Linked DNA regions of Homo sapiens. The protein of the gene in region 2 purifies or fractionates together with the protein of the main gene of each other region. This does not show direct contact. Each region holds a gene or a part of one and is shown on either strand. Other genes may lie near its edges. The genes, in order: SLX4 and GFM2.

What was found.
Region 1: the proteins of GFM2 (region 2) and SLX4 purify together in Homo sapiens (co-immunoprecipitation; one large-scale study listed by IntAct). This does not show direct contact.

Annotation. Positions count from the first base shown.
Region 1 is NC_000016.10:3,594,607-3,598,421, forward strand, and holds part of SLX4 (structure-specific endonuclease subunit SLX4), read right to left. Parts: exon of another isoform or gene 3,555-3,815; coding exon of another isoform or gene 3,394-3,554; coding exon 3,191-3,393; intron 3,090-3,190; coding exon 2,773-3,089; intron 1,788-2,772; coding exon 1,547-1,787; intron 1,088-1,546; coding exon 999-1,087; intron 1-998. UniProt on the Homo sapiens protein: Regulatory subunit that interacts with and increases the activity of different structure-specific endonucleases.
Region 2 is NC_000005.10:74,760,389-74,764,203, reverse strand, and holds part of GFM2 (ribosome-releasing factor 2, mitochondrial), read left to right. Parts: intron 1-437; coding exon of another isoform or gene 438-461; coding exon 462-524; intron 525-3,217; coding exon 3,218-3,302; intron 3,303-3,815.

The DNA.
Region 1 (3,815 bases), on a different chromosome or scaffold from region 2:
AGGAGGAGAGGAAGAGCCGTCACCTCCCCACCTCTGCTCTGCTAACTGGGCAGTGGGAAGCTCCCCGCATGGAGGTGGCGCTAGGGTGGGCCGGGAGCCAGGACCTGCATTCTCCTTTCCTCTCCAAAACGCTTCCCACGATGGCCTCAACCTCTGAGTGACCCTAAGGCCCTGAGTAGCACAGAAGAGCAAAGCACTAGCTTGTTCCTCTGGCTCTTGCCAGTGGGTTCCCTGGCCCCCGTGGAGATGCCAGACATGGGGCTAGATGTGAACTCACAGTGCTGGCAGCTCCCGCACTGAGTGGGACAGGCTGCGGGATACCTGGGCTTTGAGGAGGTGCACCCATCCCCTGTGACGGACAAGCACCCTGAGTCCAAGCAGCTCGGGGACCTGGCCAAGAGGACAGCCGGGTCCAGTCTGTGATGATGTCCCTAGGCTGGCCTTGGCATGAAGTGCTTGGTTGACACTGACATGCAAATGGGAGGAGGTCCACTCTAGGGAAAAGCCAGTTCCCACCCCGGTTCTTCCCCAGACAGCGCACTGACAGGGAGGCCAGGCCAGGCTGCTCAGCTGTGCTCTGGAGCCCAGGACCCGCACAGAGGGGAGGGAGAGCAAGCCCTTGGTGAGCTCCCAACTACTGAGGAACGAGCAGAGCGTGCCTGGATGGGGCAACCGCGCTGAGAAACTGTGGTCCCTCTACACTCCTGGGACCCAGGACAGGGCAGGCTCTGGGGCCTCAACCCCAAGGTGCCCCATGGAGTCACAGACAGAAAAGGCAGAAGTCTCGTGGCAGAGCCCCCAGAGGGGCGCTGAGGTGGCTGTGGGTCCGTGGCTCTGCTCACGGATGTCAGGATGTGGCAGCCTTCTGGAAAGCAGAGGCCTTGAGAGGCCACTGCACTTGCGTTGGGGGCCAGAGGCCAGCGGTGAGCCAACCCCACCACACACATGGCAAGTGGGATGGCCGGGACCAGAGAGCGCGGGCCAGAGCCAGTTCTTACCAAGGTGCGGCCGCCCCTGTCCGGGTGCTTGTCCTGCGATGGCACCACAAACCCAGTCAGAGGAAGGCCGCCGGGCACCACGTCCAACCCTGAGTGGAGGATTCACAGGTTAAAGGAACGTCACAGCCCAGCCACATCCACCACCAAGAAGACAGCGTTGACCACAGGCTGAGCCAGCCCCTGCGGTGCCTCGGAAGGTGCTTGCTATCCGAGGACACCTTCATGCAAAGCAAACCCGCACACCCTGTCTCACCACCACTCCACCAGGGAGGTAAGAGAAGAGCAAAACAGACAGTTCACCCAGAGGATTCACTCGCTGTGGGCAGACAGCTCTGTCTTTGGTTAAAGTGGAAGGAAAATCATGACAGAGTTGTCTACACCACATTGACCTTTGAGAAAAAATGAAAGCGCCCAGAGGCTGCGTGTTCTCCCACCAGGTCAGAGCTGCCGTCGCGGCGGCACAAGAGCCAGTCCATGGCAGCCTCAGCCGCGGGGAGGGGAGGCCCGGGAGGGCAGGGCTGGCCCTAGAGTCCCACCCAGCATCTCACCTGCAGTCCCTTCCGAGCCAGCCAGGCCCCCACTGCCGGGCCACGGGCTGGCGCTCAGTCCCTCCCTCGCCAGGTCCACGAGGTCCTGCAGGGCCTGGTGCTCCCTCTGGCTGGCCGAAGGCGACGGGCCCCTGGAGCCACAGCCTGCAGTGGGGGTGCCGTGGAGAGCGGGTGACCTTCGCTCGCTCAGCTCTGAGTGCTCAGGTGGCACCAGAGGCGGCACGGGCTCCTGCATAAGGCCCTGAAAGAAGCCAGTAAGGAGAGTGACCACGTGGTCACTGTCATTGACGCACACACTGCAGAAGCCATCACATGTGGTATGCACGGCTGGACCTAAAACTACAGAGCAGGATGTGGGCTGTGGGGACAGACTGTCCCCGGGGCTCCAGCCACAGCCTGGAGCAGTCCTGGGATGCTTTTCCCCAGCACTCATGTCAACATGCTCCTCCTCTGTCACGGCCAAGGCCAGGCCTGTGGCATCTGTTTGCACAAAGGCTTGTCAGAGGCCAGGGGGGCCCAGGCCTGCCGCCCTCCTGAAGTCCTCCAAGCTGCCTCAGGCAGCTGCGTACTGACTGTAGGGCTACCTGCCGCACGACTGTCTGGAGTGTGTGCTCCGAATGCCAGTTTCCGGGCTCCATCTGAGGCATTTTGCCAGTTGCCCTGGGACTCTGTTTTTTTTTTTTTTTTCAAGACAGAGTCTCACTTTGTTGCCCAGGCTGGAGTGTAATGGCACGGTCTCGGCTCACTGCAACTTCCGCCTCCCCGGTTCAAGCGATTCTTCTGCCTCAGTCTCCCAAGTAACTGGGATTACAGGTGTGTGCCACCATGCCTGGCTAATTTTTGTATTCTTAGTAGAGATGGGGTTTCACCATATTAGCCAGGCTGGTCTCGAACTCCTGACCTCGTGATCCGCCCACCTCAGCCTCCCAAAGTGCAGGGATTACGGGCGTGAGCCACTGCGCCCGGCCGGGACTCTGCATTTTCAACAAACTCCAGGAACACACTCTGGTGGACACCAAGGGTCCTCCCTGATCCTACCCAGAGTACCATGTAGTTGCTGGACAGAGAAGAAAGCTGCAGCCACCAAGTGCCCCTCTGGCCTCCTCCCGCCTCTGCCTTTCCTTCCTGGACTTTCCATCACCTGGCTGTGGGTACCCAGTGTTGCAGTTCTGGGATTGCCAACCTCCCCCAAAAGCCTATCCATGTGCCTGAGGGGAGGGACTCACCTGGGCAGGCCGCTGGGGCACGAGAGGAGGGACCAGCCTGGCCGTGTAGAAGTCCTCCATGGCCCAGGCCCCAGTCAGTGCGCTGCCCTCCCACAGAAAGCTCTGCTTGCGTTCAGGTGGAGGAGGACACTGGCCCGCTCTTTCCCACCCTTCCTTTAAAATCCTGCTGGCAGGAAGTGGTGGCGTGCTAGACAATTCCACTTCCTCAGAGAGGAGCAGGGCCACACGGTCCTCTATCTGTCGGCCTGTGGTTTCAGAGTCCTGGACTAACAACAATGGGGGGGATACCGGGGGTTTCTTCTTGCGACTTTTATTCTCTAGAGAGAAACAAAAGCGACACCATCAACGGTGGAGTCGGTCCACTCACCCGGGACCTGCTGATGGCCTCTCCCAGGGTCACTCTTCTGATCACACAAACCTGCTTCTGGTCTTATCCTCTCAGAAAAGGCACTTTCCAGCCTGAGCGCTGGTACAGCCGCACCCGGCTCCATCTCCGACCGGGACAGAGCCATGGCCACCAGCAGGTCCTCGGACGGTGCCTCGTCCACCTTCCGCCTCTTCCGTGGCTCCTTCTTGCTGGTGGGTCCTCTCCGTTTCAGACCTCTACTGTGATCACTGAAGCTAGAAAACAGCCAAAGAGAAAAGTTACTGGGGCTAGAGGAGTGCACGCTTCTCAGGTTGGTCACACTGGTCTGGAGAGGGCTGGGCCTGAGAGAAAAGTGACGGATGTGGACCTGCCAGGCAGATGCGTCCCCCACTTCCACTGCCTTGTGTGAACTCATTCAATTCCAGGCCAGAAGTTCAACATGGCCCAGGCACAGGAGGGTCTGGGTTCCTTCACGTGCTGCTGTCCAGCAGGCTCATGGCAGATGTACGGAGCCATCTGTGGTACCTGCACATCCTCATGTGGCCAAGCCCATCCAATGGAGTCAACAATCGATGGCTCTGAGCAGGCTCCCTGGACTCCCACCACCTTCACCCATCAATACTTCCGATGCTCCTTACACGGTCCTGGCCACACCGGCAGAAAAGGATCCCTTCCC
Region 2 (3,815 bases):
TTACATGGTATGGTAGGAAAATCAGAGTATACAAATGAATCAATAAATTTTACTGCCAATTAGAAATTACCAAGTTAATATGTGGATGCTTAGCTTTTTATGCTTAATTCTATACATTTACATAACAATGCATTTTGGTTGATACAATGTTTTGTAATTTCAATAAGTTGATTTCTACTGTATCGCCATATCTTTCTTTAAACATTACATTGACAAATAAGGGACATTTTAAACCTAAAAACCATATTTCTCATATTTAATCAGAATTTTCCATTTTCTGAATGATGCATTGAATTTTTGGTAGCTAAAAATATTGTTCCAACTTTTTAAAAGTAATACATTTTACCATACATATTACATATGTCTAACTTACATATGCCTTGCTGACATGTAATACATAAGTTTAGTTTTTTGATTTTGTATATTTATTTTTTCAGACAGTAACAGTTTGGAGGATCAAGATGTTGACCAACTTGAGGATATTTGCAATGAGTCATCAGACAATACCCAGTGTGTATATTAATGTAAGCATTTCTTATAAAATTAAGTGTCCTTTAACAACCTCAGCTCCTTTACTGCCTAAAATGCCCAGTATATCTCATCAGCTGTTGATTCCAAATTTAGTTGAGTCATAACCTTTGGAAATCTTCAAGCTAAACTAATTTGAAAGTAATTACCTTAATTTATTAAGAAATATAAGAGGAAATTACCTTAATTTAAAAGTAAAAGAACAGCTGTAGCTAAATACTGGTCTCATGGAGTACTAAAATGCCAGTTGTTTTTGAAGGAGGGGTAGGGTTTTATATCTAAGAATGTCATCACTTAATGCACATCTTTAAACTACTAACAAATAATGTGCTTTGTAATATTAAGTATCCATGGATTGAGACTCTTATGAAATAAAGTTTCTGTTAATATCAAAGTACAACATAATTATACAATGGTTGATACAACTACTTTTGGCTGTCTTCTGCAGAGCTGTTGGAAGCCAGCTTCTTCGGCAGTCTGATATTTGTCTCAGGAACATTGTTTTAGTCTTTAGCTCTGGTCTGACTCCTGAATCCTCTTCAAAACACTATAAATTATTTTCTAAACTATCACATCTTCAGTATACTTAAAGATATTAAATCTCAAACATAATAATACCCTTTTTATCTATAGCTAAGTGAGAGATTACTTTAAAGCTTGTTTGGGTTGTTTCTTTTTATCTTCAGTGACTTAACAGGGAGTACAATAGTTTCCCCTTATTCATGGTTTTGCTGTTTAGCTGTTTCAGTTGCTCAGAGTCAACTGTGGTCTGAAAATTAAATGGGAAATTCCAGAAATAATTCATAAGTTTTAAATTGTGTGCCATTCTGAGTACTGTGATGAAATCTCATGCCATCCCACTTAATCCCACCTGGGAGGTGAGTCATTCCTTTGCCCAGCATATCCACATTGTATACACTCCCCACCCATGAGTCAGTAGCCATCTGGGTTATCAGATTCACTGTTGTGATACTGCAGTGCTTGTGTTCAAGTAACCTTTATTTTACTTAATCACGGTCCCAGAGCGCAAGAGTAGTGATGCTGGCAATTTGGATGTGCCAAAGAGAAGCCATAAAGTGCTCCCTTTAAGTGAAAAGGTGAACATTCTTGGCTTAATAAGGAAAAAAACAAATCATATGCTGAGGTTGCTAAGATCTATGGTAGGAATGAATCTTCTATCCATGAAATTGTGAAGAAAGAAAAAGACATTTTTGCTAGTTTTACTGTTGCACTTCAAACTACAAAAATTATGGTCACATAACATGATAAGAGCTCAGTTAAGATGGAAAAGGTATTCAGTTTGTGGGCAGAAGACATGAACAGAACCATGTTCTGATTGATAGTAATTAGGTTCTGTACTATCTGAGGTTTCAGGAATCCACTGGGGGTCTTGGAATATAACCCCTGTGGATAGGGTGTGACTGCTGTATGGGAGAACCTGTAACCCTTAAGAAGCCTTACCATTCGTCTACAGTTTTTTTGTTGTTGTTGCTAAGAAGCCTTACCATTCATCTACAATTTTTTTTTGCTACTTTAAAAATCACCTGAGCAGCATTTTGAAGAAGATATATTTCTGTATTCCATTTGTGATCTCATTAAGTGGCCCAAGGAGTTACCCAGTTTTTCTTCAGTGCTTTTATTGCTGACGCTTTCAGACTATGCACGCTGTGATAGACACTGGGTCTTATCCTAGTCATTATGCAGTGGAATTATTTTCTGAGGATAGTAGCTTATTATTGCCAGAAACTTGGTAACTAATGTAGAAATAATATAGATCGCACAGATACGCAGTTCATGAAACAAAAAGCAGATTGTGGTGGCCCTAAATCATTACATACACTAACAATTCCAACTACATTGGCAGCTATTAAATGTATATCTAGTGGTCTGGGCATAAACTGAGGTGGAGAATATTCAGCCTTTACATGAGAACATGAGAAGGTTAGGTAAGCAGCTAAGGTAGAGGAGGTAGGCTTGGCCTTAAGCAGACCTGCTCTAACTCAGTGATTCTCAGTTGAATGCTACATTGGAGACACCCTGGGAATTTTTTTTAAATGCCACTGCCCAGTTCCTCCAGTTCTCATTTTCTCTCCCCACCCCCGTGTCTTCAAGAAGCTTTCCAGATGATTCTAATGTGTAACTGTAATAAATCCTGAAAACAACTAATGGTTTTAGAGTTCATTGCCCCCTACAGACCTTTCAGCAGATGTAGAGGAAAACCAAGGTGTATCCTGGGTGAGATACCTTATTTAACCTTTCTGACTCAGCTTCTGACTTTCAGAACTTTAGGGTTGTGGTTCTCAATCTGTAGCTATTAGAATCAACTGGAGAGCTAGTTTAAACAGATTGTTTGGCTCCATCCCCAAGAGTTTCTGATTCTCTTGTCTGGATTGGAGCCTAAGCATGTTTTTCAAACAAGCCCTCAGCCCATGCTAATGCTGCAGGTTGAGGAAAACCATTGTTTTAAGGTCAGCTCAAAATAGCAAATCAGTATTAATTTTATCCTTATTCTTTCCCCTAGGATATATTTGGATTGTCACTTTTTAAAAGAATTGGAGTTAATAAATTAGGACTACTTTAAAGCTATACAAAATATTTTATCTTCTGACAAAGCGTAATTACAATATTAACACTGTAATAAGTGATGCTAAAATAAAATTAATGCCAAGTTTCTTTTTCTCTTTACTAGAATATATGCTGCTATAAAATAAGAGCAAGTTTAAAAAGATTAAAGCCACATGTGCCGCTTGGAAGAAATTGCAGTTCTCTACCAGGTACAAATGTTAGAGTCTTCTAATTTTATCTAAGCTGTTTGCTTTATCTCTTTTCTCTCTCTTGTTTGCAAGAATCTCCCTTATTAGGGCTCTGTAACCATTTTTTACTTCTTGGCTATTTCCTTGAGATTATTAGGGGCGGGAGTGTTCAGATAGGTGCCAGAAGGAAATACTAGTAGAGTTGTGCTCCTTATCTGAGGAACACGCTGATGAACTGAGCAAAGGAAAGGTTGGTGGCTTTAGTAGCTAGTTTGCAAGTTTAACATGTGAGTGTAATTGTAGAGTGCTCTTGTGAATTTCTTTTTCTAGTTTATTTCTGTTTTTTATGCAAGTGTTTTCTGTCAAGAGAGATTTACTAGAATAATTTATTTTGAGGATTGTTATAAGTAGTTTGGCTAAGTATTTGGGATTGTTTAGGTTAGATACATGGCATCAGAAGCTGGAAGGTGGAGGAGTTGACTTACTTTTGAATGTCCTTTCTGTGTTTGAAACAAGCAAGTGTATGGTAGACTC